Linked DNA regions of Homo sapiens. The protein of the gene in region 2 interacts with the protein of the main gene of each other region in a pairwise test. Each region holds a gene or a part of one and is shown on either strand. Other genes may lie near its edges. The genes, in order: BTBD3 and PLXNB3.

Region 1 (14,991 bases), on a different chromosome or scaffold from region 2:
TATATAAATACTTGATATAAAGAAATATAATGGAAAACTAGTTGAGCACATAAAAACTATATTCAAAATTCTTACGTGCCATTTTTTAAATTCCTAGACTTAAGCTACTGTAACAAAGGAAAAAGCAGCATTGGTCATATCAGAAGCCAGATGTCATTCAGTATCAACACCCCCCTTAGCACAGGAAGATCCAGACATTTGAGCAACTATAGCTTCAGAATACCGGCCAACCACGAATTCCATAATAGAAATATAAATGCATCCATTCATTCCCTCTCATTAACAGTCAGGCTTTGAACAATGCAAGTGATTAACACATTCATTGTTCTGTTATCCTTTTGCCTCAAATTTTTACTTCTTTAGGGATCAAAGATATCTGAACACTTAGCTAACAAATGCCTCTGCGAAACCATCTCTGCAAAACGTAGTGGGCATCAAAAGTGCCAGCATGAATTTTTTACTATCTCAAGGGTGTGACAAAAGCACTAAAGGAAAACAAATCTATGAACTAGTTTTATTTGCATTTAACATGATTATACACATTCATGTGTCTAACAAGATCTGCACTGTTACATTAAAAATACAGTACAATAACATTCAACATGAGGTACTTCATATTTATGTATTTTTTCCTTCATAAATAATGCTGTAAGCTACTAAATTCAAGCACACTGATGCACAAGTGGCTACAGTGTCTTGAATTAGCTGAGCTTATTTAAACACCTTAATAAACAAAAAAGTTCAGTGCAATAATTATGTAGAAATTAGACCATTTACTTAAATACTATTTTAAGATATGCTTAAAGAATGTCACATTAGAACTGCTAGCCTAGTTCCCCTTTATCCCCAGAATGAACAACGACAAAGACTGCCAGCCAGATACGTTGGGGAAAAGCATCTACAGTGTATTCTGCTTAATAAAGTTGTGTTTATAGAATAAAGTTGCCTGCTTTGTTAGAACAATGGTTTCTAGTTTTAAAAGCTACAAAATCCAAGATTACAAAAGTAAATAAAGCAAGCATATTAGCCTTCATTCCATTTCATTGAAAATGCATAAAGGACAATAGGGTTTAAAATGTAAAATTTCTTATTCTAAATACAATTTTCAAATTTTACCCACAGCTCTCGGTACCAGCCAATCAGATGGTAGATATGTTTTAAAGTAATAACAATTAACATAAAATTACATTATTCTATACACAGTGTACAGGATTTCACACGACTTTCACCAGCAGCTCACTAGTCACATGGAGGCAGCTAGCAAACATGGGCACTGACAGTGAGCGTTAGTGAATGAACGCACTGCACCTGAAGACTATCACACCCACCTCAACAATCTGATAGGATGCAATTAAAGTTTCTTCTCTGGCTTACAAACAAGTGCCTTCTTATAAGGTCTACCAATTTGCACAGCAGCTATGAGTTACTGAAATGTGTAACCATAATTTAAAAACCAAATCTTTTGTAGAAGTGTGCTTTTTAATTGAAAATGTACCTTTGTACTTCAATGCTTTGCCAAACTACCTGTAATCTCCCCAATAAGAAATAATTGTACTTTTAGAACGTTGTCCTGGAAATACTCATCTATAATCACCAGTAACAGCTTTTCATCATCTATGCTAATAGATGTAGGTAATGGCAAGAGTGATTAAAACATTTCCAATAATCCAGTGTTCTCCTCCCTCAGGGAAGCCGGCTGAAGGCAACAAGCCCACATCTACAGGGGAAGAAGTGGCCCAGAGGCACAGTGAATACGTCAGGGCAGTCACTCATGGGCCTTGCTGGGGCCAGCAGGAGGACCATTACTGTCCCACCTCTTACTAGCCAGGTAGAGAGGAGACAGCTCCTGAGCTGGCAAACACACTTGCATGCGCATGGGTGCGCAGGCACACACACACCCCAGGACTAACTCCTGGCTCCAGACAAGCCAGTTTCAGGCTTGCAGAGCAGGAGCAGGAGGCGGCCAAGGACCACACTCTGGGTGGCGGCGGGGAAGCCATCTCAGGATCACACTGAGCAGAAAAGCTGCCCAGAAACACATGGATACTTCAACTGGAAGTGAACACACTGGACACTGCCAGGGACACAGGCACTAAACCAGCACAAGCCAGCAGCGAAGGAGAATTTAATAAGTTTTTCCCTCCTTTGTTTACATTATCTGTGGACAAGTAAGGGAGCTAGATGTGATACTGATGCAGTGAATATTAGGTATAATAAAATGTGTCACTCCAGGCCATTTTTTATAAACCCTGCAGGCATATGTTGGCACTTTAAGATGGCCAGGGGCCAGATTCTAGCAGTCTAGGAACAGGACAAAATTAAAATTAACAAAGAATATAGTATACAATCAAAGTGGATCAGGTAAAGTATATTTCAAATTTAAAAAAATGAACAAAGGTATCTCATTACATTAAATGTAGTGCTACAAAACTAGTTGCTACTCCATTTGTATAAAGAATTGTTTGGTCCTCTTTTAATGGGGAAAAAGAAAATAGAAATTCTACACAGTATGACTTATACAAATAAGCAAACAGTGGGGATCAAAAGCTAAGTGGAGAGAAGAGTTTGGCTTTTTCAAACTGCATATTCTTATATGCCATCAATTAAATTATTTGTAGTATGAGTCTTTTTCAGGCTTCCTTTTTAAACTGTCTTAGTTTAAATTAGTAGGAGTTTAACTTTTTTCTACTGACAATAAAATCTAAAAATTTACTTCTAAAAGAAGTATCTGTATTGAAATTTTTTGTCTTCTAAACTAAAAGAAAAGAAATCTGCTTGTAGAAGTCATGGCCTAAACAAATGCCCCCAGTTCCTTATTTTCCAATTTTACATTGATATTCTGAAGTGTTTAATACCTAACTATCTTATGAATTTAGTAATTTTTTAAATCCCAGAAGCAACAAATGTAAAAGGAATAAAACGAGAGCCAAACACAACCACTGTCTACTTTCTAAATTATTACTCATTACAAGGCAAAACTTCTTTCAAAATTGTACACTGAGGTTTATCTGTTTTGGGGGGTAAGAGGAGTTCTGTTTAAAAATAACTCTTGTTATCACTTTATTTCTGTTCATCAAATAACGTCCAAAAGGAAATTCAAGGTGATCCAAAATTATCTTCAGAGGGACAAAACTGAGAGGGTGGTGGAACGCTTGGGAAAGCACATAATCTCCCCAGGTTCATAGATGCAACTCTAAAAACCACAAAGCCTTAATAAGAACGTTAGCTCTTTTAAGCAGATAGTTAAAAGCGGAATGCTGCATTTTTGCCTGTACATAATTAAAAGGTTAAAAGAAATTAGAACCTGCCTACCGCTTCATTCATTACAAATTACCGGCACTGATCACATATTTGCAGATGAGCTAAGCATCAGGCAAGTTGGAACCAGATGTGCACTTTGGAGCTCAAGCTGCTTCAGGAAGTGAGTTTTCAAGCATAGAATATAAGTTCAGGGATCTGCCCTCCCTGTACCCCAGTGCCATTGGTGCTATCTGAGGAGCACTGAAACTGGACAGTCACTTTGCCACACTGAACTTCTGTCATGCCTTCTTGTCCAAAGTAGCTGAGTTCATTGCCATCCAGTATCACACTGGCTGTGTAGAAGGTGTCTGGCTCGATCTGCACTGGGTATTCAAACCATACGGGAAAGGTATTGCTGGACCCATCTGAGAAGTACTTGCTCAAGTTCTGCCCCAGGACAACGCCCTGCCGCTTAAGTTCAATCTTGGCACTGTATTCTGCAGAACCACAGCTGGAGCCATACAGCCCAAAGCCAGCAATGAACACTCTTTTATCAACTGCAAACTGGATGCTGTCACAGCGACCACGATAGCGCCATTGGTTGCTTCGATAGGCACACGACTGGAAACGGTGACAGCGCTGGGGGACAAGGCCCTTACGGGCTTTACTCACAAACTGAAGCTCAGGCTTTTTGGCTGCAGTATACCAGAGGAAGATGTCGTTGGTCTCATTGAGAGTTAATACCCCGGACTGTGCAGCACCATTTGCAAAATCATCGAGGGCCATTGTGGGTATGCGGATCAAGTAAAGTGCCTTTCCTAGAACCTTGCGTTTATTTTCAATGCTCAACGCCAGATCTTGTCGTTGGCATTCTACTTCAGCCCAGTTGAGAGCTGCCTCAAAAACCACAATTTCTTTGGCATTCAGAGTTTCCCTACGGAGAATACTTTCTAGTGTCTGGAAGTCAATATCGCAGAATCCCTCAGACTTGAGAGCTAACTCAGCCTGGGCATCAATCACCTCCCAGCAACGCTGGGTCAGGTCTGGCTCCTCGAACAGGCAGCTCTGGGAGAGGAGCACACAGGCATTCTTGGCACTCAGGCTGGTCTCCAGGAAATTAACACAGGCTCTGGCAAGGTGAGGGACAATGTACTTTTTGGCAGCATAAAGTGTGGCCAGCACTGTGTCAGCAGCCAAGTCAATTTCATCACAATAGATATATCTGTAAAAAGCACATAACATGTAAGTGGAATTTTCACAAAATGAGTACATCCAGCAAGAAAAGATACAACCACTTTCAAGTTTGTTCTGAGAACATCATCTTATGTGACAGTTAATACAAACATATTTGCAGAGTAAAGGAACATTCGAAACATATTAATAAATTATTAATATTTTAACCCAGTAGTAAAGTTTGTATAATTAAAGATATTAACTTTGTGCTACCATTCTAGCCTCTATTTTATAAGCTGCATTCAGTGTCATCTCAACAAAACAGAAGCTATTGAAACTGAAAAACAACTGCATATTGAATAGTCAACATTACAAAAAAATAGCAAAATTCTATTATATATACTACATTATATTTAACCAAGAATAGTCTCGTTATGTTTTAAGAGCAATTATTGCATCTTCATGCTTTTGGAGTTTTCCTAAGCACAAAATAAAACCTGAGATTAATATTTTCCAAATAGTTCCAAGTTCAATGGATTATCAAAAGTATGGACTGCAATGCTATCGTCCAGTTAACTTTACATAGAATCCAACAGACTTTTTATTTGTTTTTGTTTTTTAAACTCAAAACTCTTCCTTCTCCACACATTCCTTCTACCTTCAGAATTCAAGATTACATTATTTCCAGATATATTTAATTAAAAGACAAAGTAGGAAAGCTTAAATATGTATTATTCCTGTGCTTCTGTGAACTGTCCTTATTTCAGGATATAAAACACTTCACAGGATACACTTTTTGGGAGACAGTGGCAGTCTCCCAAAGAGGCACGTAAAGGTAGTCATCATCTGCTTCTCTTCTACCTAAGGTCTACAGCTACTTTATCTTGAGTTTTCCTTTAGTTATTGTATTTCACCTTAGTGAAACACATAAAACTTAAGAAATTAGCAACAGCTTCTATAAGAAAGTAAAACACAAGAATGGCAATGAGAAAAATGTCCACGAGCACAAATGAAACCTGCCTTTTTGCTCACAGGAACCTTTCTCTTCTCTGATAGGCGAAGTCACCTACTGATGGCAAGGCCACTTGATAGTACACCTGCGGCTCAGTGATGCTCTGACTGTGAGCCAGGACCCTGGGGAGGATCCTAGAGCATGGTCAGCACTTTCGAGCTCTTACCCTGGAACTGTCAAGGGAGCAGCTGTCCTCTTTTTCTGACAACCCCAGGAATACTGGCTACTCATACTCGATGAAGCAGGCCACCGCTTTCACAACTACAGCACTAGAGCAAATGGCACCTGACTCATTTCTGATCTTACCACATTTTGTGGACTGCATGTATAATTTTATAAAGCTTTATCAATATCTGCTATAGGCAATGCATCTGTGGGAAAAGATACTTGTCAAATGATTCATCAAATGACTTAGGTGAGATGTAATTCTCTGCCATTCTTGTTCATGTTTCCTAATTATGTATATATCAGGAATGATACAACATCCTACTTGACTGCAGTGAAGACAAAATGCTGAACTAGTGCTAGCAATCTCCTCAGCAACAGAAAACACTATAAAAAATACAAAGCTGACTTCATGCAGTGGGGATACTTGCAGGTAAAACTGGTTTCTGTACATATATCTCCAAAAGATTACAAAGGTTAAAAGTAGCAGATTAGTTTACATTTTGGTACTTCACATGCTCACTTGCCTTTAATTTCCCTATCCCCTACTGTGAAGGTCTTGTCAGTGACAATTATATTTCAAAACTGTAAGATGAATAATGAATTAAATACTTTTAAGTTCTAGAACTAACTACAGTACTTATTTTTCAGAAGACAGTAAACAATGTATGGCAACATTTTAACTATATGTAGGAGTACTGTCCAACTTGTTGACCCACTGAATACTTTTTTCAACAAACATTTTACTTATTCCAATGAACTGAAATCCCTAGAGCAACAGATAACCTTAAAGTAATACACTTTGCTGTGCTAGAATAAAGATTAGGAAAAATCATATAAATACTACTTAGAATAATAATTAGATTATGATCACTTGGTGAACTACCACACTGTCTAGTACCGTACATGATAAAGAAGCTGATTCTATAACCTGTTTAACACATACTGGTGCCTGCAGAAGACCCACCAGACAGAAAACTATCTTTTTTATAAATATATAACGTATCTTTAAGTTTCATACTTCTGTATTACCAATGAAAGTTCTTCTGTATAAATCCACATGAAACTGTACGAGACTATCCATATCTTTCTAAGATTTCCCCTGTAATGTCAAATGCAAGTACTTTTTACCCTTGAGAGTGTCTGATTTTATATGAGTATGTATATGTATGTGTACACAAAGATCAGATTATTTCAACAGATGGTAAGTTTTTCATTTGCTCTTAGGAGACAATAACTCTTAGAATACTCAGAAATCTCCCAACTGGTGTTACTTAAATAAGGTACTTAACTTCTGAAATTGTGAAGCAAAAACATTTGTTTAAAGACTTTTTCACACACAATGCTTTCAGAGAGAACATCTTCTATTAAATAATGCTAATACCAGAAAGTTATTTGTCTTTAATTTTAAGTTGTTAAAAATCATCACTATACATGCCACTTGCTCCCAAATTCTACGTCAAGGTGCGATTATAAATGCTGCATAATTCCATATGCTTTCCACGGAAAGCTAAAGTGTTCTTTTCCGAAAACATTTACAAGGTAAGCAGCACCCTCTTTCTTCATCAGTCTTCTTTTCTGTTATGCAGAACTTAAATTTAACTGTGAAACCAGCAGGGTACAAATACAGCATAAACAAACTCTTTCCAAACACACGAATGATGCTTACTTCAGCATAGCGAGAAAAGCAGCAGGTTCGACATCTGGTATACGGATTTCATCTTTGTCCTCTGCAAGTTCTCCGTAAAACATCGCATGGAACACAGAGCTCCCAACAGCTAAAACATACTGTGTAGAAAGGGAAATCTTATTTCATACACTAAATTGAAGGCATTTCCAGCAAATCAATGCAGAAAAACAACACTAGGCAATCAGGTTTAGTAAACATAGCGTACCTAAAATCTACTGCTTTGAAAAAGCCAAGGTACACAGGGTAGCTTGCCATGGAAGCATAAGACCATGCTGCTAATTATTTCAAAGCTTTAAGAGATTAATGCACATGTCCCCTCATTACTAAATACATACAATAATAGCTTACATAACTAATTTCTAGGAGAAGGGTAAACATACGACTTTCCTGACCTGTCACAACAACTTCCCATGTCTGGAGAGTTAAGAGGGGATGTGTGAGATATAAAGCAGTATAGAAGGAAACAAAGAAAAAATTAAGCGTGGCCAAAGCCCTCTGGAGAGGGTGCGCTCTCTCCCTAATCGAGTGAAACATGCACTGCCTGACATCGGCAAGCTGCCCACACCAAGTTACAGGCTTATGGAAAGGGTCCCTCTTTGTAAACGTCAGGACTAAACCGGTCATGCAGCTGTTGCTTACTTTGTGTCCTGGCAACCGTTGAGTCCCACCTGGTGGCCCAACCACAAAATGTACATCTGCCATCAAATCATTATTGAACATCATCGCATTTCTATAAACAGAGGCAACTCATTAATTCACAGCAGCCTGCATTTTTAACATCCCCTTCCCCAACATACAAAACCCACAAAAGACTTGCAAGCTAAGCAACAGTCCAGTAACTTCAAGGCAAAACAACAAATAAAGGTTCTAACTAAACTGTTCATAATCATTGCAAACATAAGGGAAGTAACTAAAGTTTAAAATAAAAGTTATACAAACTTTTAATAAAGCTAAGGACAAATAAAAGGTTCCCATTTTCTATGGCCCATAGACAACCCTGTCACTTGAATGTTACAGCTTGCAAAAACATTTTTATCTAAGAGGAAAACAGCTGTACTGTTTTGGAAAAGATACAAGGCAATTTTCCATTACCAATAAAAAGCTTCTGGGAAAAGAGGAAACAGATTTGTGTTCAAATACATTACAGGTTTTGCAAAAGCAGAAACTTCAACACAGGAAAACTTTTAAAGTAAATAGACTAGCGCGGCACTTACCTCTCTCTAATGGTGGGATAAAGACCCTGCCAGTTTGGGGCCGGGATAAGGTTGTTGTTACTGAGATTCTGCTGGTGGTACTGCTGGACGCTGGTGCTGCTGGAGTTGGCTGGCTTTTTACGGGGGAATATATCAGCAGCCATCTTCTTCTTTTTAGTCTTCAAGGTAATTATTTCATAACAAACTGGTGGCAACTTGCTGCTGTTGCTACTGCTGCTGCTGGTATTTGCTTTCTTTGAGCTTTTCTTGGACCTGTTCTTTACCGTCTCTGGAAGCATCAAGAAGAAGGTGAGACATTTCATGTTCTTTTCCTTGTCATCTACCATGAGTACAGTGTGTCTCTCTTTAGAGTTAGATATCCCAAATTGGTTTGAACATCAAGGAAAAGAGATTAGCCCGGGCTAAGAGGTTAACTGAAACCAACAAAGCTGATATTTTGCTGCTTTTCTCAGCCAGGCAAGGTGACCTTTTCACTATGTTGAATAGAAACTGGCTTTAAGTTTTATCCAGTACTGGGTCTGTTAAATATATCCCCATCATGATTCCTGTTTCTCTTATTTGCTCATAAAAATAACTGTTTCCTAGATCACCTGAAAATGCTACACTGCAAAGATGACAGGCACAGAGCTGTAGCACTTCTTTTCTGAATTAGGTCAGCAAGATGGGCTGGAGCTGCGTGAGTCTGTTCAGCCGGCTGAAGTTGTGTGGTGAATGGATCGGAGGAGAGTAGGTATTACAGCCCTGCAGATGGAGTCAGACAGCCAGTGCTCCGAGCCAATAGCTGAAGTCACCAATCATGATTGGACCAAGCAAAACAGTGACACCTATTGTAACATGCATAGTTCTGATATTAAAGGAACAGCAGTTGCATTTTCTTGTCTACTGTATATTTAAACAAGATAATAACATATGAAATATATTTGACAACAGGAAGGGAGGAGTTTATGCCCACAGATTTCTCTTCAGTAGACATACATTATGTCCCCAGTTAAGCAGGATCAATTAACAAAGGGTAGGGACAGATATCTATATTTCTACTAAAATCTTTTTCCCAGCAGCATTTAGTTTCAAATACTTAAAACAAAATCCTCCAGTCTATAAACTGAAAAGGGCTATTAATAGCAAAACACATTTATTACACTTTAAAGGCAAAGGACGTTATTTTTCTTTTTCTTAGCCTCTTTTGAGTGCAAGTCATAGTCTAGTGCTAAAGAAGAGAACTGAGGCCATGTGTTCAGTTTACCTCCCAATGTTTTCTAGCTTCTATAATGGTCTTTGACAGGTGTCTCAGGTCACAAAATACTGTTAATTAGATTAAGATTATACCCGTACACCTAAGTACACTAAAGCATAAGATAAACTCTAGAAGTAAAAATAAGATTCAAATAAAAACAAATCTGATGATCAATGTTCAAAGGCTGTAATTCACTAAAAATATTTCAGATGGGGCCATGTTCAGGATCTCAAAATTCAACTTAACTGTTAAGGCTACATTTAGTCTTGTCTTAATTTTAAAGAATATAATCCACAACTTCTAAGACAGAACAAATAACAAGGCTATTCAAAATGATAAATGTTCGGATTCCACCTAGTTAAAATGCAAACAGGTTCTCTCTGCTTTGAATTAGAAGAATATAAGCTACCATTTGATTTTTGTAGGTGTGAATCCTCCAACCATTTCTAGCGTTGGTGAGTAAAAAAAACAAAAACACCGGCAATAGGTTCTGCATATGCTTATTTATTGTAAAGAGGGACTAATTAAAATATTTAATCTCACCCCTATCTATTTGGATCACGCTCATTTGTTCAAAGCACAGCAGCCATTTGCTACCCCTCAGGCAAATGCACCCTTCATGACCACAGCCCTCCTTGTTTTAACATTTGTCTGAATAATGACTACCTGACACAGTGAGGGCTCAGCAAATAAGAGTTACGATTGTTATTGTTATAATTAATAATCTGCTAAAGGCGGTTACCAGAAATCAGTCTTTAAATCCCTAGAACACTAAATTGAACCAAGAAATATCCTCTTTATTGTTGTTATTATTATTCTTAAAACCATTTGCAAAGCCTCTGTAAGAGAACCAGGGCCTGTAGCACAGTTACCTGTCTCCATTTTAGATGGATCCTGAAGCACTGCTTATTTATTATGATTATCATGTTCTCAACAGCAGAACACACACATACAGATACCTCCAAATCATCTTCATACACACTTTAACACACAATGTTAGAGAGGGATCTAGAAACCAGTTTAAAAAGCACATAGAGAAAGTCATGAAGAAACAAGTAAGCTCCTATTGACCTAATTATTCAGAATAGGGTTAACACTAAAGGATTTCTCTCTTGCTCAAGTGCCACTGAACTTCCTTGACCACTTCCTTGCAGGAAAGCTCCCATGCCAGGTAGGCCTTTCTGACTGGGATTAATCTCATAAATATTTCTAACAAATCTAGTATCTGGCTTTTCAGGTCAGAAGTAATCAATTAGAATGGAAAGGGAAACCAGCTGCTTTTAGGCAGACATACTATTAATTGGTAGCTGGATGGAGACAAAATAGAAAAAACATAAAACACAGATACAAGAACTTAGAAGGGTTTGTGATCTTTACTCATTTTGCATATGGCTCAATACCCATCACCAAGAAGTCTCCAAAACACATGGCTCTTACACCACTAAGTTAAAGAAAAAAAGTAAAGTGGATGTAACAGTTTGAGAAAGAGAAGTATGCAATATTGTAGAACATGTTTTCTAAAATTACAGATATCAGTTATTTAGAAAAATAAGTTTTGTAGAAAATTCTGACAATACTAGTTAAATGAAGTAGCGCTAAATCTGAATCATCTACAAGAGTGCTACAAAGAAGGGCATTATTACTCCAATGTATGTAAGGACTGATGAGCATGGCTGTTTAAAATCAAGACAGAAAAATTATCTGACGGCTACTTTTTCTTACCACGGTAATAAGGCAAGTAATGCAGGTTCTTGCTACTGAAAATGTAGTTGAAGGATCAGCAGCAGCATCTACAGGGAGCCTATTAGTCACCCAGAATCTCAGCCAGACTCTGGATCAGAATCTGCATTTCATACAGTATTCAAGGTTGAAAAAAACTTCACATAGATAACTACTGACTACTAGATGTCTTCCCAATGATCCAGTACCAACATCTGGTGCCATATGTTGCATTCAACTATTAAGTGAATTGAAAATAACTCAAAATAATTTAATTTAGTTTGGACATTAAAAACTTAACAACCCCTCACATCTTGTTCTGAAATTCTTCTGATTAGGCCCCAAATGTCAAATTCTAGGATTGAGGTGTGCAGACAGCCAACTGAGAGGGACCAAGATATTCTCTGGAAAGGAAGCGCCAGCCCCAATTATTTTAAAAGATAATGACAGTGATGATTTCGGCAGGAAAAATAAGGAATTAAAAAATGTCAACTATGAAGCAGATAATCACTTAGTACTTTTAAATGGTCTACTTCACAATTGTATTTCAACAAATTAGCAATGTAGCATGGTAAAATTAGCAACCAATCTAGTTCAGTCCTGGCTGGGCCACTTAAAATAGAGAAAGGCGAGTATTTGAACAAATCATTTAGCCTTTAAGGGCCTCAGTTTTCCTCAGCTATAAGATGAAAGAGATTCACCCAGAATGAATGTTTTTCAAACTTTACACTCAATCCACAGTAAGAAATGCATTTTATATTCTGACTTAGTACTAAACATAAACACACATACAGGCATACAAATGGAAAGACATGGCTCAAAAAACAAAACCTACTCTTAGCATGTTATGATATACACTCTGATATTTTCTATTTTCTTCTTTCTTCTTTTCTTTTCAATGTTGGTCATAATCCATTCAACTGATCTCATGACCACAGTTTAAGAAACACTGGTCTAGGTTATTTCTAAGGGCATTTAAGGTTTAACACACTAGGTTCTTTTCTTTTTTTTTTATTTTATTATTATTATACTTTAAGTTTTAGTGTACATGTGCACAATGTGCAGGTTAGTTACATATGTATACATGAACATACTAGGTTATTTTCTATCAAGAATTCAGACTAGGGACCACCAGATGATGGCAAGTTCATGAAACTCCTCAAGCTGTCGGTGAAATTGGCAGTATGTGTGCATTTATTTTTCTAGAAAGAGAAGCCATGGCTTTCATCTGCCATGAGTAATTGCAACCCAAAATACAATAAAATGTTAGGGTTAAAATGTTATAAAACTATAAGATTGATTTGAATATACAAAATTTTGGTATCACTTTATTCTTTCATTTCTATAGTCTACTACATTAAATACAAATTATGGCTTCTTTTCCTCCTTGATTAAACATAAATAGTTAAAACTCCATCTGTTGAGTCTGTAACCCAGAAACATCACCCACTGGGTTGAAGGGTAAAAAAGGATAGCAGCCTGATGTCTACTGCTACATTTTACTCCTAAAATTTCTTTCCAATAGGCATTTTATCACTTGTTTCTACACTTCCTGAATTTTAGAGCTGTCTGCCCTAATGAGGTAAATAGGCCAAGAAGTCCATCAAGTTTGTATGAAAGTATTCCCAAAATAAAACATACTGACTATGCAGTGTATTAGGTGTTGGGCATACGGCGGTGAGCAAGACTAGAAACCAAACTTAAAAAGTTAGCTAATAATAGTGTGTTTCAGTTGATTTTATAATTGCCAGAAAGCTGAATCACTGTTAACCTATTTCCATTCAATTCCCAATAATAACAAAATTATCCACAGAATTTAAGCTCACTTAGATCATCCTTTTCACCACTGGAAGGTTTGTCAGCAATCCTACCTTTATTTAATACAATCTGACATATTCACTTTGCAGACCTGAATGAGGTTTGAAACTGAACGGGACTCCAGAAATCATTTAATGCAACTCTTTTTTCACAGGTATGGCAACTGGTGTCAGAAGTATAAGGGGTTTGTGAAAATTCCACAGTAAAGAAGTGGGGCAACACCTGGACTACGAGGCGGATCTCCTGGCTTGTCATGTTGTTTGCTTCATTCACTCTAATATTCACTCACAGTAATTACCTCACACACTTACAGAATGCTCAATTGTCATATTTCTAATCTACTTTAAAAGAAGAGCTTTCTTTTAAAGTTTACAAAGATGAAAACCATGAACATATGTAGTCTGCACCCCTGTAGGGGCACACTACAGGCAAGAATGCTGAAAGGATACTTGTGGAATGAGATGGAAGGAAGGAACTGCAGTGAGGACGCTGCTCAAAAACAGAAGAGGCTCTCCAGGTAAAATAAAGTTAGAAACCAGCTATTCACGGTTAACACCAACTTCTATGTCAACAACTAATAATGCTGGCAACTCTTGTTTAACTTGCTCTAACTCTGGACTCCTTGTCTGGACTTGTACATGGTTTACTACAAGGCCGCTAAAAAGCAACAGCAGTGAGGTTAACAGAGGTTTAAACAAGGTAAGGTAGACTGAAGAAATACCTATCACTTCCAAAAATGATTAACATAACCTAACAGAGGAGAGTAGTTTAATCTGGTAAGTTATGAGGGAATAGTGTTTTGTTTTTGCTTATTTGTCCCTTCAATACTGAGCAAAAATTATGCTTTTGATTTGGGAGGTAAAAAGATAAGCAACAAAATGTTGGCAGTCCCCAAAGTCAGCAGAAGCTGCTGGAAAACAGACTATATATGCTTTCTAAATTTGGAAATAAATATGGAGTCAAGCGCTGGAAGCATAGCATAGCTAAAAAAGCAAGAGCTAACAACAAGTGACCTTAAGGTCAGTATTTGTGAGCCTCATTTTCCACATCTGCCAAATGGGGTAATTAGACCCAGCTTCTCCCTCAGGTTTATTGTGAAGGCAAGATTATATGTTTTGTGAAAGCACTTTAGTTAAAAACAGTCTACAAAGGTAAGTTCTCACCATTAGCAGCAATTGTGCCCAAAGCAGGAAACGTTTGTGATGCAATCATCTAAAACACAAAATCTCAAAGATTAATCTAGCTCCTCATCCTTGTACTCTTTTCAGACTGCACAGCTACTGACATTTCATCCTATCTGCAGGCTTCCTCTAGCCCCACCTATGGGCCAAGCAGGTCCCATTTTGCTGTGAATCTGATTTTGCAGGGAAGGTTCAATAATAAGCAAGATTTGTGCTGTGCACTGTGATCCGGTCCACACCCAATGTCCAAATCCCACAGTGTTATTTCCAAACCTGCACTTGAACCCACACTTCAGGCTGGGTGCCCATTGTGGACTTCAAACCTCCATGAGGCCACCTGTTGGCTGATTCACTGCTGTGCCCACTTCCTGAGACAGCCTCCTGCAAGGAGCCCATCTAGCCACCCAGCCATATCTCACTAGCAACTCAATTTGGCCTCTCTCGACAATGACCCAGTTTGAATTCCAGCACCAAGGTTGATAACTAAGGCCAAGTATTTGGCCAAGGCATACCTCAGTGCTGTCCACAGTATAAGGTTCATGGTC
Region 2 (16,772 bases):
CACACACGCCCTGCCGCACCTGCCCGCAGGCCACCAGCTCCTGGGCGCGGCTGCTCACCAGCAGCAGCTGGTTGGCATTGTCAGTGAGCTGGGCCTGTGGGCACTCGGCTGGGTCACGGAAGGGCACGCAGTCAGGGCTGTCGATTACAGGGCCAGTGACAGCCACGGCCTCGAGCTGCAGCTCGGGGCTGAGCTGGAAGAGGCGGTTCACTGCGCCGACATAGAGTGTGCCTCGGCCAGGTGCCAGTGCCAAGTGGTTGAGAGTGGTATTAGGTGCGGAGAAGCGATGGGCCCCTGTCAAGGGCAGTGGCGGTGGGGACAGCAGCAGCAGGAGGAGGCAGAGGCCGAAGGGAGGCCAGCGAGCCATCACGGGGGCCTGTGAGAGGGCACAGGTCAGGGCAGTGGGAGCGCAAGGCAGATAGAGGACCAGAGGAAGGTGGAAGGTGGGGTGGACAGAGGCCAGGGTGCTCAGGGCCAGGGAGGGAGGGAGGCAGAGAGATGGAGAATGAGAGAGAGTGAGCGGAGACAAGGAGACAGAGGGGGCACAGAGAGAGGGGGACATAAGGAGGGACAAAGACAGTGTCCAAGAGCTGGAGCAAGAGGCAGGGAGGGGTGCATGCACGCACGCACAAGCACACAAGGACAGAATTCTTTCATCTCCTACTTTATATGCATGTAGATTGTTGAAGGGGGGCAGGTCCTGGAAAGCCGCAAGAGCGCTAACAGAGGGACTGTGAGTCACAGAGGGGGCAGGGATGGAGAGAGGGCAGGGGAGGGAGGGAGGCCGCGGGAGCTGGAAGGCTGGCGGAAGCTGTGTCACAGCGCGCCCCTGCGCCCACCACCCAGACAAGAGAGATCTAAGTCAGGTGAGAGGAGTGAGGCCACCGTGTGCCCCAAGGGACCAGACAGGGAGAGAAAACCTGCCTTGGGCAGCCAGGGCCGGCTGCAAGGAGGAACCCTCCGCAGCTGGGGGAAAGAGCCAGGCAGCCGCGGGCTGAGCAAGGAGCAAGTCAGCGAAGAGGCAGGGGTGAGCTCCATGCTGGCGCCCAGCTCCAGGGCGAGGAAGCACTGGGGCAAGGCAGCGGGGGTGCTGGGAGAAGCCAGGGGTGTCAAGAGACAACACAGGCTTCAGGGGTGCGGGGAGGCCTGCTCCTGCCCCATGGGCCCCAGCAGTTTGGGTCTCTCAGGGCCTGGCACAGGGGGCCTCAGTGTAGGAGTGTCCCAGGAGAAGAGCAGACCAGGAGAGCTGGCTGGGGGAGGGGTCAGGGAAGGGGCAGGGAGGGGTGCCAGACTGGAGATGGTTCCTGGGTGTGCCTGGTGGGACCCCGGGGTGAGCCCCCGAGGGTGAGAGGTGGGAGCAGCCCCTTCTCTGGCCCCTCCTGCCCTCCACAGAGAGATGCTGCCCTGGGTGTGTGGTCACATGCCGACCAGGAGTGGGGCCGCTGCGACTCAGGGCAGAGCAGCGCCTGGAGGAAGGCCCAGGAGCCGCTTATCTCAGGAACACAGGCAGGAAGAGCACGGACACTTCCTGCGGACCCCGGGCTATCTGGGGCAGTGTCTGCCATGAGGGAGGCTGCAGCCTGTATGTCCTGGGCCTGGCCACAGCCATCCTGCCCTACCCTGCCCCTCCCAGGAACATTTCTGGGGACACCGGGCCTGGGCACTTACCATGAAGTGGTGCAGCAGAGGGGTCTCCTGGGCGGCGTGGCACATACGCTCAGTTCAGCTGCCCCAGGGCAGTGGCGATGGGCATGAGATGGCTGCGGGGGGGCATTGTCCTGAGTGGGAGGGAGACAGTCGAGGCTCAGCCCCATTCGAGCTGGCCTGGGGAAGGAGGGGCGGCGGTGGGGGTGGCGCCCAGGGCCTAGCGACCGGGCTCCCTCACAGCTGGCAGCTTTGTCAATAGTGGCCAGGCCAAGGCAGCCCTGCCTCCACCACAACAATGTTCCCTCTGTCCAGAGGCCAGGCCAGGGCCCCACTCGCTAGTGCTGTCACCCCCACTGGGCTGTTCTGGACAGGGGGCTCCTTGCCACTTCCCACCCTCAGGGAGCCACCCCCGGGATCCGGGGACAAAGGGCCGGGGTTTCCTCCAGCCAGCCCTCCCCCTCTGGCCCTGCAACCCCTGTGTCACTAAGCATGCCCCTCCCTGGCTCCCCGGGTCCCTGTGAAGGGCACGGGGTGGACCTTGGAGCCCCTGCAAATGCCGGCTGGTAGCCTTGGGGCCTGGGTGAAGTGCCAGTCCTGGCCCTCAATGCCTGCCTTTGTCCAAAAGATCTTCCTCCACACCCCCAGCCCAGCCCTGCCCCTGGGGACTGGTGAAGTGGTGCCAGGTACAGCATGGTGGCAGCGAGCAGGACCACGGGAGGAGGCTGCTTGAGATGGGCTGAGGCAGAGGGTCCACAGGCCGGGGCTGTCCACCCCACCCTCTGAAGCACCGTCCTGCTGGCCTAGATGCCATCCATGCAGGGGATGGGGAAGGGAGGGGCACCTAGCAGCTAGACCCCCTGTCACCCTCACAGGCCACCCTGGCCAGTGGCACAGGAGCAGGTGCACTGGGGATGGGGTCTCTGCCTCCCCCACAGCACGGCAGCAGTAGGCTCCAGGGCAAGGTGGCAGTGGGCTGCTGTCACCTGGCTGGGCCAGTTGGGTGGCTGTGGGGGTGGGGAGCCAGGCGGGCAGCCTCTCTACCCTGTACCCTGCCCGAGGCTGGCGTTGGCTTTCCCATTTCGGGGAAGAAACATGGTTCCCCACCTCCTAACCCCAGGGCTACCACTTGGGGGACACCGTGCTCCCAGACACCTAGTGCCGTCGTCAGGCTGGGCCGACACCCGAGCGCTCTTGCCTGACCCCAGCCAGTTGGCCCTGAGACCCTGATGCCTTGCCCTGAGGCTGGTAGCCCCTGCACCCCAAGCCCAAGCCCAAGCCTGCCCCAGCTCTTGCCTACCTGGTGGGCCACCGGCGAGGGCCAAGTAGCAGCTGGCGGTGCCAGGAGCACGTCTCACAGAGCCCCAGCCTCCCTCCCCACAATGCAATCGTGCCCAGTCCGACTCATCCCAACAAGCCCGGCCAGGCAGCCCAGCCTCTCTCCGCCCGCCCCTTTGCCCAATGGCACAGGGCAGGATGTTGCTGCCCTCTGCTGGCCGCAGCGGGCATGATGGAGTACTGACCGTGGGCACCTGGCAGGTGAGAGACGGCAGCGCCCTCCTATTGGGTGGGCATTCCATAACCTGGCACGAAGCACCTACTGGATGCCAGGCTTGGGCTTGGCACTGGCACCATCCAGAAACAAACACAGGTTGGGAAACTGAGGCACAGGAGGTTAGGAAACTTGAATAAAGTCACACAGCTAGTATGTGGCAAGGCTGAGTCAATCACAGGGCCCCTTCACTTAACCGTCAGGCTACATGACCTTGAACCATGAACCTTGGCAGGCGTTGGGCAGGAGATGGAGCTGAGGCCTACCCCAGGCCAGGCCTGGACGTGACATGCCCACGTGGCGTTGAGGAAAAACCAGTGTTTCCCACCGACTGGAACACAAGGTTGGTCAAGGGCCGTCTCCCAGGGTGTGGCGGAGGTCAGCAAATCAGGTGGGGTCTTTGTGGCCAGGCTTGAGAACTTGAACTTGTCTCGCCATGGGCAACTGCAAGCTGGTGGCACTGGGGCAGAGAATGTGGGGAGGCCTGGTCCAGTGGTGGTCATGGGCATGGAGAGAGGCGGGCGCGTTCTAGAGGCGCTCTGGGGAGGCAGCATTCTGAAGACTGTGCGTTGGACCCAGGGCAGGAGGCGAAGGCAGGAGAATCCAGGCGACCCTGGGGCTTTTCTGCTGGGGCACTGTTCCCCCTGTGGCAGGGCCATCCACAGAGGGGCTGGCGGAAGTGGGAGGACGGTAAGACTGAGGGGCCCATGAGGGAGGAGGAAATGGTGATGGGGCTGGGGAGGCCTGGGGGTGAGAAGCTTGGCTCAGGTGGCTGGAGCCCTGGGGGCGGCCAGGGTATAGGGCCAGGTGTTGGCCCTGGAGCTCAAAGGCCCAGCAGACTCGGGGTATGGGTGCTTCCCTGAGCAGCTGTGTCATTCTTTCCAACCTGCATGGAGAGAAATGGGGCACAGAGGTGGGTAACTTGCCCAGGGCCATGACCTGACGTCGTTTCTTCAGAGTGCATTCCACAGAGATGGGATTTGAACCTGGGCATTCTGGCACGGGCCACGCTCTGGACCACTGGGCCCCAGATCCACAGCTTCTCACCTGCAGCCGCTGAGGATGTGGAGGCAGACCAGGCAGGCCCGTGGGAAGGACCACCAAAAAGCGAGTGAGCAGCCGGCGAGGGGTCTCTCCCCAACAGGAAGGCCAGGCAGCCTTGAAGGAGCCAGGGAGGGATTTAGAAGCTCCAGGAGGGGAGGCTTGGGGGAGCCAGCTGGCCTCTCTCCCTCTCCCTGTCCTTCCCCCCATGCCTACCCCAACACACACACACATGTCCTTGCTGGCCCCGGATGAGACAGACGCCTGCAATCTGGCATGGGGAATGGGTTTCTCCTTCCTTTCCACAGAAGAAAATAAATCAGGCTGGGCGTCGTGGCTCCCGCCTGTAATCCCAGCACTTTGGGAGCCTAAGGCAGCAGGATCACTTGGGCCCAGGAGTTCTAGACCAGCATGGGCAACATAGTGAGACCCCCATCTCTATAAAAAAATTTAAAAATTAGCCAGGCATGGTGGTGCGAGCCTGTAGTCCCAGCTACTTGGGAGGCTGAAGTGGGAGGATCGCCTGAGCCTGGGAGTTGGTGCCTGCAGTGAGCCGTGATGGTGCCATTGCACTCTAGCCTGGGTGACAGTGCAAGACTCTGTCTTTAAAAAAAAAAGAAAAGAAAGAAAGAAAAAAGAAAATAAATCCATCCACAGGCAGCACCATTTTCATAAATATGTGTGTATATGGCCTGCATATGCACCTTCTACGCTTTCTGAGCAGATAAGAGGCGTGGCTATGGCAGCCCCTGGTCTGAAGCTGGTGTAACCAGAAAGGATCTAGGCTGGTTTGGGGAACCGGAACATCTTATGTCAGGGGAGTCGTGCTGGATTTATCCTGCAATGGCCGGGTCCCCTCACCAAGGGATGGGAAGGCAGCGTCAACTGATCTGGTGTCGTCTCCTTGCTGTGTGCCAGGCTTCTCAATGCTGGAAGGGGACTCGTTGGGTCAGTGGGACGTGGGCTTCACGTTTGCTGGGCTGAAGACGTAGCTCTCCATGCTGGCATCCCAGCGGACACCCCCACTGCCACTGCTGCACCACGTCTTCACGTACACCAGAGAGCAGACTTGAGAGTTTCTGCGCATACAGTGGGTGTGAAATGGTGCCCTGCTGGGTTTTGAATCGGCATTCCTTGACCACCGGCCATATTGCAGCACTTTTCATTTCTTCTGTCAAATGCCCGTGCATGTCTTGGCTTACACTTTGCAGGTGTTCTGTATTTTCCACACCAATCCCTGGGGTGTATGTCTTCGGCCTACCTGTTACTTGTCTTCTCAGTTTGCTGATGTATCATGTGATAAACAGAAAGTCTTAATTTTAATATCATAGCATTTATCAATCTGATTTCTTTTTTTGAGACGGGGTCTCGCTCTGTCGTGCAGGCTGGGGTGCATTGGCGCAATCATGGCTCACTGAAGCCTCCTGGGCTCAAGTGATCCTCCCACCTTAGCCTCCCAAACACCTGGGACTACAGGCAGGCGCCACAGTGCCTGGCTAATTTTGTAATTTTTTTGTAGAGACAGGGTCTCGCTATGTTGCCCAGGCTGGTCTCAAACTCCTGGACTCAAGCGGCCCTCCCGCCTTGGCTTCCCAAAGTGCTGGCCCGTGAGCCTGTGAGCCACTGCGCCTGGCTACCTTCTTTTGAATTCCCATTCAGACTGTGTGTTGCTGGTACATAGAAAAACAATGGATTTCTATGTATCAAGTAACCTTGTAAACTCTCATATTAAGTCTAATAATTATGTTTGGGTTCTCTTTGTGGATTCTTTTTGATTTTCTGCGTACACAATCCTATCATCTGCAAGTAATGACCATTTTGTTTCTTCTATTCCAGTCTTTTTAGCTTTGATTTCTTTTTTTGAGGCAGAGTCTGGCTCTGTCACCCAGGCTGGAGTATAGTGGCACAATCTTGGCTCACTGCAACCTCCGCCTCCCTGGTTCAAGCAGTTCTCCTGCCTCAGCCTCCCAAGAAGCTGGGACTACAGGCACCCACCACCACGCCTGACTAATTTTTGTATCTTTACCAGACACAGGGTTTCACCATGTTGGCCAGGCTGATCTGGAACTCCTGATCCACCTGCCTTGGCCTCCCAAAGTGCTAGGATTACAGGCGTGAGCCACTGTGCCCGGCTGATTTCGTTTCCTTGCTTTACTTCCCTGGACTTGCTTTCTCTTGCTTTTACTTCCTTTGAATGAAAGCATAGGAGGCGCTGGGCATGGTGGCTCACGCCTGTAATCCCAGCACTTTGGGAGGCCGAGGTGGGTGGATCACCTGAGGTCAGGAGTTCGAGACCAGCCTGACCAACATGGAGAAACTCTGTCTCTACTAAAAATACAAAAAAATTAGCCGAGCATGGTGGCCCATGCTTGTAATCCCAGCTACTTGGGAGGCTGAGGCAGGAGACTCGCTTGAACCCAGGAGGCCGAGGTTGCGGTGAGCCAAGATCGAGCCATTGCACTCCAGCCTGGGCAACAAAAGCGAAACTCTGTCTCAAAAAAAAAAAAAAAAAAAAAAAAAAAGCATAGGAGGCATTCTCAGTGTTCCATTATTAAGTATGATGTTTGCAGGGAGCATTCGGTAGATATGTTTATCAGATTTAGAAAGCTCCCTCCCATTCCTAGTGTGCTATATGTTGAATTTTTATAAAATGCTTTTTCTGAATGCATTAATATGATCACAGGGTTTTCCTCCTCTAATCTGTTAATGTGGCAAATTACATTAATTCATTTTTAAATGTTAAACCACTCTTGTATTTTCTGGACTAAACTCAACTTTGCGTGATGTATTTTTTTCATATACAATTCTGGATTGGGTGGTTTTTTTTTTTTTTTTTAGCCTCGTATTATTATCCTCGTCTGGTTTTGGTATCAAGACATCGTAAAGTGAGTTGAGGCAGTATTTCCTTTTTCAGCTGTTCACTGGAACAGTTAGTCTAAGATGGAGATGATCAGTTACTTCCATGTTTGCTGGAGATCATCTGTAAAACCATCTAGGCCTTCCTTGTTTTTTATTTTCTGTTTTTTGTTTTGTTTCTTTTCTTTTCTCTTCTTTGTTTTTTTTGTTTTGTTTTGTTTTGTTTTGTTGTTGTTTTGAGACAGAGTCTCACTCTGTTGCCCAGGCTGGAGTGCAGTGGTACAGTCTTGGCTTACTGCAACCTCTGCCTCCTGGGTGCAAGCGATTCTCCTGCCTCAGCCTCCCGAGTAGCTGGGACTGCAGGCATGCACCACCACGTCCAGCTAAGTTTTGTATTTTTAGTAGAGACGGTGTTTCGCCATGTTGGCCAGTCTGGTCTTGAACTCCTGACCTCAGGTGATCTGCCTGCCTCGGCCTCACAAAGTGCTGGGATTACAGGCATGAGCCACCGCATCTGGCCTGGCCTTCCTTGTTTTTGTAGCTTCCTGCCTGTCCCCCTATAGATTTTAAACAATGAATCCAACTTCTGTAATAATTATGGGACCATTTAGGTTTTCTGTTTCTTCTTGAGTAATTTTTTTATTGTGGGAAAAAATACATAACACAAAATTTGCCATCTTTTTTTTTTTTTTTTTTGAGACAGGTCTTGCTCTGTTGCCCAGGCTGGGGTGCAGTGGCATAATCATTGTAACCTCAAACTCCTGGTCTCAAGCAATTCTCCTGCCTCAGCCTCCTGGGTAGCTGGGACTATAGGCATTCACCACCATGCCCAGCTAATTTTTAATTTAATTTTTTTTTTTGAGACAGATCTCACTTTGTCACCCAGGCTGGAGTACAGTGGCGTGATCTCAGCTCACTGCAACCTCTGCCTCCCGGGTTCAAGCAATTTTTGTGCTTCAGCCTCAAATTTTTAATGTTTTTGGTAGAGATGGGATCTTGTTACTTTGCCCAGGCTGGTCTCCCATTCCCAGACTCAATCAATCCTCCTACCTTGGCTTCCCAAAGCACTGGGATTACAGGTGTGAGCCACCATGCCCAGCCTCCAACTTTATTCTTTTGCATGTGGATATCAAGTTTCCCCTATACCATTTGTTGAAAAGACTGCCCTTTTCCCAATTTGTAGCCTTGATACCCTTGTCAAAAATCATCTGACCATATACTTGAGAGTTTCTTTCTGGGCTCTGGATTATATTCTGTCTCTGTCTTTATGCCAGGACCACACTGTAATATGTTTTATTTTGTAAATCAGGAAGTGTGAGTCCTCGAACTTTGTTCTCCTTTTTCAGAATTGTTTTGGTTATTTGGAGCCCCTTGAGATTCTATCTGAATTTAGGATGAATCATTCTATTTTGAGTCAATTTTTGATAAACAATATTTTTCTAGGAACATGCTTTTTTTTTTTTTTTTTTAGACAGAATCTAGCTCTGTCGCCCGGGCTGGAGTGCAGTGGCATGATCTTGGCTCACTGCAACCTTTGCCTCCTGGGTTCAAGCAATCCTCCTGCCTCAGCCTCTCGAGTAGCTGGGATTACAGGTGCCCGCTACCACGCCCAGCTGATTTTTGTATTTTTAGCAGAGACGGAGTTTCACTGTGTTGGCCAGGCTGGTCTTGAACTCCTGACCTCAGGTGATCCACCTGCGTCGGTCTCCCAAAGTGCTGGGATTACAAGCGTGAGCCACCGCGCCTGGCTGGAACATGCCCATTTTGTTTAAGTTTTCAAGTTTATTAGCATAAAGTGTTTTGGTTTTATTTTATCATTGATTTATTATTAATAAATGTCTTGGGTCAAAACCAGATGACGTTGCTTAATGTTCATTTATTGTTAACCTACAAAAATTGCAGTTTCATCTTGTTCAATCTAATACACACGGAAGAGCATATGCTGCTTAGATGAATCATCCCCACTGACAGCCATCATGGACCCTTCTTTTTCCCTTCGCAGTTAGTCCTAGCCTTTCCTTGGTTTTCTTTATACTTGTCCCAAATATGAATTAGCCTTAAACAATAAATTATTTACTTTTGCAACAAATTTTTTGGTTTTATTTTTTTAAATGTGTTAACTAGAATCACCATGCTGTACATCAGATCTCTGGAACGTCTCCATCCTGCATAACTGAAACTTGGTACCCTTTGACCAGCATTTTCCCATTTCCCCTACCCCAGTCCTGGCGGCCACTGTTCTGCTCTGTTTCCATGAGGCTGACATTTTTACTTTCCACGTGAGCAGCGTCATGCAGTATTTGCCTTTCTGTGCCCGGCTTACTTCACTTAATGTAATGTCCTCCAGGTTCCTCCATGTTGCAAATGGCAGGATTGCCTTCTTTTTAAAGGCTGAGTAGTGATCCATTGTGTATCTGTACCACATTTTCTTTATCCATTCATCTGTTGGTGGGCATTTCGTTTGATTCCATATCTTGGCGATTGTGAGTAGTGCTTCAATGGACATGCGAGTGTGGATATTGCCTCGACATACCGATTTCATTTCCTTTAGATACATACCCAGAAATGGGATTGCTGGATTGTATGGTCATTCTCACTTTAAATATTTTGAGGAACCACCATGCATACCATTTTCCATACTGTTCCAAAATGTTCCCTTTTCTCCACACCCTCGCCAAAGTTTGTTTTCTTTTGTCTTTTTGAAAACGATCATTCTAATTTGAGTGAGGTGGTGTCTCATTGTGGTTTTGAGTTGCATTTCCCTGATGATTGGTGATGTCGAGCATTTTTTTCTTTTTTTAAGATGGAGTTTTGTTCTTTCGCCCAGGCTGGAGTGAAGTGGCGCGATCTTGGCTTACTGCAACCTCTGCCCCCCGGATTCAAGTGATTCTCCTGCCTCAGCCTCTGGAGTAGCTGGGATTACAGGCGTATGCCACCACACCTGGCTAAGTTTTGTATTTTTAGTAGAGACAGGGTTTCACCATGTTGGCCAGGCAGGTCCTGAACTCTTGACCTCAGGTGATCCACTCACCTCGGCTTCCCAAAGTGCTAGGATTACAGGCGTGAGCACTGCACCCGGCTGATGTTGAGCATTTTTTTTTAATAGACCTATTGGCCGTTTGTATGTCTTCTTTTGAGAAATGCCTGTTCAGGTCCTTGCCCATTTAAATTGGGTTATTTATTTTTTCAATTTTCAATTTTTAATTTTTAGGAGTACATAGTAGGTGTAACTGGGTTATTTTAACTGGGTTAGAAAATACATTTGCTTGCTATTGAGTTGTATGAGTTCCTTGTGTGTTCTGTGTATTAACCTTGTATCAGATGGATGGTTTACAACTATGTTCTTCCATTCCATAGGCTGTCTCCTTCACTCTGTTGATTGCTTCCTCTGCTGTGCAGAAGCTTTTTAGTTTGATGCAAACTCATTTGTCTGTTTTTGTTTTGTTGCCTGTGCTTTTGGTGTCATATTGAAAAACTTATTGCCCAGACCAGTGCCAAGCAGCTTTTCACGTAAGTTTCTTCTAGTAGTTTTCTAATTTCAGGTCTCACATTTGAATCTTCAGTCCGTTTTGAGTTGATCTTTGTGCATTGTGTGAGATAAGGGTCTAATTTCATTCTACTGCAAGTGAATATCCAATTTTCCCAACACCATTTATTGACAAGACTGTCTTTTGTCTATCATGTATTATTGGCACCTTTGTCGAAGATCAATCAACTGTAAATGCATAGATTTATTTCTGGGTTCACTATTCTGTTACGTTGGTGTATGTGTCTGTTTTTATGCCAGAACCATGCTGTTTTGGTTACTATAGCTTTGTAACATATTTTGAGATCAGATAGCATGAGTCTTCCAGTTTTGTTCTTTTTGTTCAAGATTGCTTTGGCTATTTGGGGTCTTTTGTGGTTTAACATACATTTTAGAATTGCTTTCTCTATTTCTGTGAAAAATCTCATGGGAATATTGATAGGGATTACATTGAATGTGTAGATCACTTTGGGTAGTATAGACATTTTAACAATATTAACTATCCCAATCCATGAACACAGGGTATCTTTCCATTTATTTGTGTTTTCTTCAGTTTCTTTCATCTGTGGTTTACAGTTTTCGGTGTATAGGTCTTTCACCTCCTTGGTTAAACTTATTCCTAAGTATTTTATTTTTTATAGCTATTATAAATGAGATTGTTGGCTTGATTTCCTTTTTGGATAACAAAATAAATCTTCTTTGATGATTTCTTTTTTAGAAAGTGCATTGGCTGGGCGCAGTGGCTCACGCTTGTAATCCCAGCACTTTGGGAGGCCGAGGTGGGCGGATCACAAGGTCAGGAATCGAGACCACGGTGAAACCCTGTCTCTACTAAAAATACAAAAAATTAGCTGGGCATGGTGGCGGGCGCCTGTAGTCCCAGCTACTCGGAGAGGCTGAGACAGGAGAATGGCGTGAACCCGGGAGGCGGAGCTTGCAGTGAGCCGAGATAGTGCCACTGCACTCCAGCCTGGGCAACAGAGACTCTGTCTCAAAAAAAAAAAAAAAAAAAAGAAAGTGCATTGTTAGCATATAGCATATAGAAATGCTACTAGGTGAGGCATGATGGCTCACACCTGTAATTCCAGCACTTTGAGAGGCCAAGGCAGGAGGATCACTTGAGCCCAGAAATTCAAGACCAGCCCAGGCAACTAAACAAGACCCTGTCTCAATAATAGCAATAATATTAATACTAATTAGTCAGGCATGATGGTGCACATTTGTAGTCTCAGCTACTCAGGAAGCTGAGGTGGGAGAAGCCCAGGAGGTCAAGGCTGCAGTGAACTGTGATTGAGCCACTGTACTCCAGGTGGGGTGATAGAGCAAGATTCTGTCTCAAAAAAAAAAAAATAAAATAAAAAATAAAAGCTATTGTTTTGTATGCTGATTTTGTATCCTGTACCTTGACTGAATTCTAACAATTTTTCGGTGGAGTCTTTAGGGTTTTCTGCATACAGGATTGTGTGATCTGCAAACAGAGACAATTTAATCTCTCTCTCTCTCTTTTTTTTTTTTTTTTTTTTACGAAGTGTCACTCTGTTGTCCAGGCTGGAGTGCAGTAGTGTGATCTCGGCTCACTGCAACCTCAGCCTCTCAAGTTCAAGTGATTCTCCTGCCTCAGCCTCCCAAGTAGCTGGGATTACAGGCATGCACCACCACACCTGGCTAATTACTGTCTTTTTAGTAGAGATGGGGTTTCACCATGTTAGCCAGGCTGGTCTCGAACTCCTGACCTCAGGTGATCTGCCTACCTCGGCCTCCGAAAGTGCTGGGATTATATGTGTGAGCCACCGAGCCTGGCCTAATTTGGGTTTTTAAATGTTTTTTTTTTTCTTTTCTCATTGCTGTGGCTAGGCCTTCCAGGACTATGCTGAGTAGAAGTGGTGAGAGTGGGCATCCTTGTCTTGCTCCTGATCTTAAAGGAAGAGCTTTCAGCTTTTCACCATTCAGTATGATGTTAGCTGTGGGCTTGTCATATATGGCCTTTATGATGTTGAGGTATATTCCTTCTATACCTAATTTGTTGAGAGTTTCTTTTTAATTTTGTTTTTTTGGTAGAGACAGGGCCTATGTTGCCCAGGCTGGTCTTAAACTCCTGGGCCCAAGTGATCCTCCTGCCTTGGCCTCCCAAAGTGCTGGAACTACAGGCACGCACCAATGTACCTGGCTAATTTGTATTTGTTTGTTTGTTTGAGACAGGGTCTTGCTCTGTCACCCAGACTGGAGTGCAGTGGTATGATCCTGGCTCACAGTAGCCTCGAACTCCAGGGCTCAAGCCTCCAGAGTAGCTGGGACTACAGGCACACACCACCATGATTGGTTAATTTAAAAAAATTTTTTTTTGTAGAGGTGTCTTGCTATGTTGCCCAGGCTGGTCTGAACTCCTGGGCTCAAGAGATCCTCCTGCCTCGGCATCCCAAAGTGCTGGGATTACAGGCATGAGCCACTGCACCTGGCCAAGAGCTAATTTTTTTTTTTTTACATCATGAAAGAATGTTAAATTTTGTCAAATGCTTTTTCTGCATCAATTGAGAAATGATTTTATTCTCCATTCTGTTAACGTGGTGCATCACATTTATTGGTTTGCATATATTCAATCACCCTTGTATCCCAGGGATAAATTCTACTTGCTCATGGTGAATGAGCCTTTTAATGTGCTATTGAATTCGGTTTGCTAGTATTTTGTTGAAGATTTTTGCACCTGTGTTCATCAGGGATATTGGCCTGTAGCTTTTTTTCTTTTAGTGTTCTTGTCCAGCTTTGATATCAGGGAATTTTCTGACCTTATTAAATGAGTTTGGAAGCGTTCCCTCCTCTTTAGTTTTTTGGAAGAGTTTGAGAAGGATAGGTATTAGTTATTTAACTGTTTGGTAGAATTTACCAATGAAGCCATCAGGCCTGAGCTTTTCTTTGATGAGAGACTCTATTACTTGTCCAATCTCCTTACTCATTATTGGTCTGTTCAGATTTTCTATTTCTTCTTAAGTCAGTCTTGGTAGGTTGGATGTGCCTAGGAATGTATCCATTTTTTCTAGGATACCCAATTTGTTGGAGTATAATTATTCATAGTAGTTTCTTTTTTTTTTTTCTTTTTTTTTTTTTTTTGAGACGGAGTCTCACTCTGTTGCCCAGGCTGGAGTGCAGTGGCACGATCTCAGCTCACTGCAAGCTCTGCCTCCCGGGTTCATGCCATTCTCCTGCCTCAGCCTCCCGAGTAGCTGGGACTACAGGCGCCCGCCACCACGCCCGGCTAATTTTTTGTATTTTTAGCGGGGACGGGGTTTCACCGTGTTAGCCAGGCTGGTCTTGATCTCCTGACTTCATGATCCACCCGCCTCGGCCTCCCAAAGTGCTGGGATTACAGGCTTGAGCCACCGTGCCCGGCCTATTCATAGTAGTTTCTTACAATCCTTTGCATTTCTGTGGTATCAGTTGTAATGTCTCATTTCTGATTGATTTATTTGAGTCTTATCTCTTCTTAGTTGGTCTAGCTAGAGGTTTGTTGATTTTATCTTAAAAAAATCCCAACTCTTAGTTTCATTCATCTTTTCTGTTATTTTTCTAGTCTCTATTTCATGTATTTCTGCTTTGATCTTTGTTCTTTCCTTCTTTCTGCTGACTTTGGGCTTATTTTGTTCTTCCTTTTCTAGTTCCTTGGTGTGTAAAGTTAGGTTGTTTATTTGAGATCTTTCTTACTTCTTTTTTCTTTTTTTTTTTTTTCCAGTGACTCTCGTGCCTCAGCCTCCCAAGTAGCTGGGACTACAGGCATGTGCCACCACGCCCACTAATTTTTGTATTTTTAGTAGAGACGGGTTTTCGCCATGTTGCTCAGGCTGGTCTTGAACTTCTGGCCTCAAGTGACCCACCAACCTTGGCCTCCCAATGTGCTGGGATTATAGACGTGAGCCACCATGCCCAGCCTCTTTCTTATTTCTTAATGGAGGCATTTAAGGCTCTAAACTTCCCTCTCGGAATTGCTTTGCTGCACACTGCATTTTGTATGTTGTGTTTCCATGTTCATTTGTCTCAAGAGATTTTTTTTTTTGTTTCCCTTTTGATTTCTTCTTTGACCCATTGGTTGTTCAGGAGGGTGTTGTGTATTTCCACAAATCTGTGAGTTTTCCAGTTTGCTTTCTCTTAGTGATCTCTTGTTTGCGGTTGGGAAAGATGCTTAATGTGATTTGATCTTCTTGAATTTGTTAAGACTTGTTTTGTGGCCTGACATATGGTCTATCCTGGAGACTACCCCATGTGCAGCTGAGAAGAAAGCGAATTCTGCTGCTGGTGGATGGAATGTTCTGTGTATGTCTGCTAGGTCCATTTGCTCTAGAGCAGTGGTCCCCAATCTTTTTGGCACCAAGGACCAGTTTCGTGGAAGATAATTTTTCCATGGATGGAGGGTTGGGGGGTATGGTTTCAGGATGAAACTGTTCCACCTCAGATCATCAGGCACAACCTCGATCCCACACATTCGCAGTTCATGATAGGGTTCGTGCTCCTATGAGAATCTGATGCCGCTGCTGATCTGCCAGGAGATGGAGCTCAGGCGGGAATGCTCACTTGCCCACCAGTCACCTCCTGCTCTGCAGCCCGGTTCCTAACAGGCCACAGACTAGTACTGGTCAGTGGCCTGGGGTTGGGGACCCCTGGTCTAGAGTGTTGTTCAAATCCTGCAGCATTATTTTTTTTTAACTTCCCTATAAGTGGAATCATACTGGATATATTTTTCTATAACCTGCTGTTTTCACTCCACATGACATTTGTGACAGACATCCAAGTTGATGCACATAACCGTAGTTTATTCATTTATTTATTTTTTTAGACTTCTATGGTCTGACTCTGGGACATTTCTATTGCTGTATACTGTTTCATTGTATGACTCTAACATAGATCTTTTATCTGTTCTTCTGCTAATGGACACTTGGGTTGCTTCTGGCTTTTGCCTATTAAAAAACATTTAAACATTATTTTAAGCATTATAAACAATGATGCTGTGAGCGATTTTGTACATGCAATCTGGTGTCTAGGAGTGAAATTGTTAGCTTCTAAATGTGCACATCTTCAACTATACTGAATAATGCTCACTGTTTTCCAAAGTGGTTGTCCCAGTTTGCCTGCCCCGGGGAAGTGTGAGTTCCTGCTGCTCTGTAGTACTGCTAACACTTGGTATTGTCAGACTTTACATTTCTGCCAATCAGTGGATGCAAAAAGATACTTCACTGTGGGCCGGGTGCGGGGGCTCATGCCTGTAATCTCAGCACTTTGGGAGGCCAACGTGGGTGGGTCACCTGAGGTCAGGAGTTTGAGACCAGCCTGACCAACGTGATAAAACCCTGTCTCTACTAAAAATACAAAAATTAGCCAGGTGTGGTGGCGTGCACCTGTAATTCCAGCTACTTGGGAAGCTGAAGCAGGAGAATTGCTTGAACCTGGGGGGCAGAGGTTGCAGTGAGCTGAGATTGTGCCATTGCACTCTAGCCTGGGTGATAGAGTGAGACTCCGTCTCAAAAAAAAAAAAGGGTATTTTACTGTGGCTTAAATTTGCATCTCCACAGACCTTCTGTTCTATCTCTGGTCTTCTGTACAAAGTGGGGCAGAGATATGGGCATCTAGCATCTTCTTTGTTTTCTTCTTCTTTTTTTTTAATCTGCATAGCCAGTGCAAGGACAGCAGCTTCTTATAGAGACTTCCAATAAATCATCTTGTTCTGCACTCCCCAACACATACACACACATTGTTTCTGAGTTATCTGGTGCCTCCGATTCTTGTGCAAACCCAACTTTGCCACTGGCTGCCTCCCACTACTTTTTTTCCCCTAAGTGTTAAAACATTTATTCGAGATGGCAAAATTCCTACAAGTTTTCCTAGCATGTAATTGAGGAAAATAACACAATTTTTGTAATTATTAAATGTGAAGGGAAAATTCTTTTGGATGTATTTCTTTTCCTGAAATGCAGAGGTGGAGATGTCAGGTTGGTGAAAGGAGGCGGTATTTCAAATGGCTTCTTTTCCTGGTGCCTGGTAGCCTTTGACCCCACGACGTATCATGGTGCAACATCCTGCTCTTGTCAACTGGGGTCAGGTTTCTGGGAAAGGCAGGTTAGGTTAGAGCCCCTGTGCAAGCTGAGGCGGGACATTGGCTCCTTGGGACCA

What was found.
Region 1: the proteins of PLXNB3 (region 2) and BTBD3 interact in a two-hybrid assay, tested with the Homo sapiens proteins (one study listed by BioGRID and IntAct).

What each region holds. Positions count from the first base shown.
Region 1 is NC_000020.11:11,912,105-11,927,095, reverse strand, and holds BTBD3 (BTB/POZ domain-containing protein 3), read right to left. Parts: upstream 9,204-14,991; 5' UTR 8,821-9,203; coding exon 8,495-8,820; intron 8,011-8,494; coding exon 7,920-8,010; intron 7,379-7,919; coding exon 7,260-7,378; intron 4,463-7,259; coding exon 3,430-4,462; 3' UTR 501-3,429; downstream 1-500. UniProt on the Homo sapiens protein: Acts as a key regulator of dendritic field orientation during development of sensory cortex. Also directs dendrites toward active axon terminals when ectopically expressed.
Region 2 is NC_000023.11:153,750,477-153,767,248, reverse strand, and holds the start of PLXNB3 (plexin-B3 isoform 1 precursor), read right to left. Parts: upstream 3,001-16,772; 5' UTR 2,945-3,000; intron 1,779-2,944; 5' UTR 1,714-1,778; coding exon 1,669-1,713; intron 1,091-1,668; exon of another isoform or gene 1,039-1,090; coding exon of another isoform or gene 925-1,038; intron 867-924; exon of another isoform or gene 778-866; intron 377-777; coding exon 1-376. UniProt on the Homo sapiens protein: Receptor for SEMA5A that plays a role in axon guidance, invasive growth and cell migration. Stimulates neurite outgrowth and mediates Ca(2+)/Mg(2+)-dependent cell aggregation.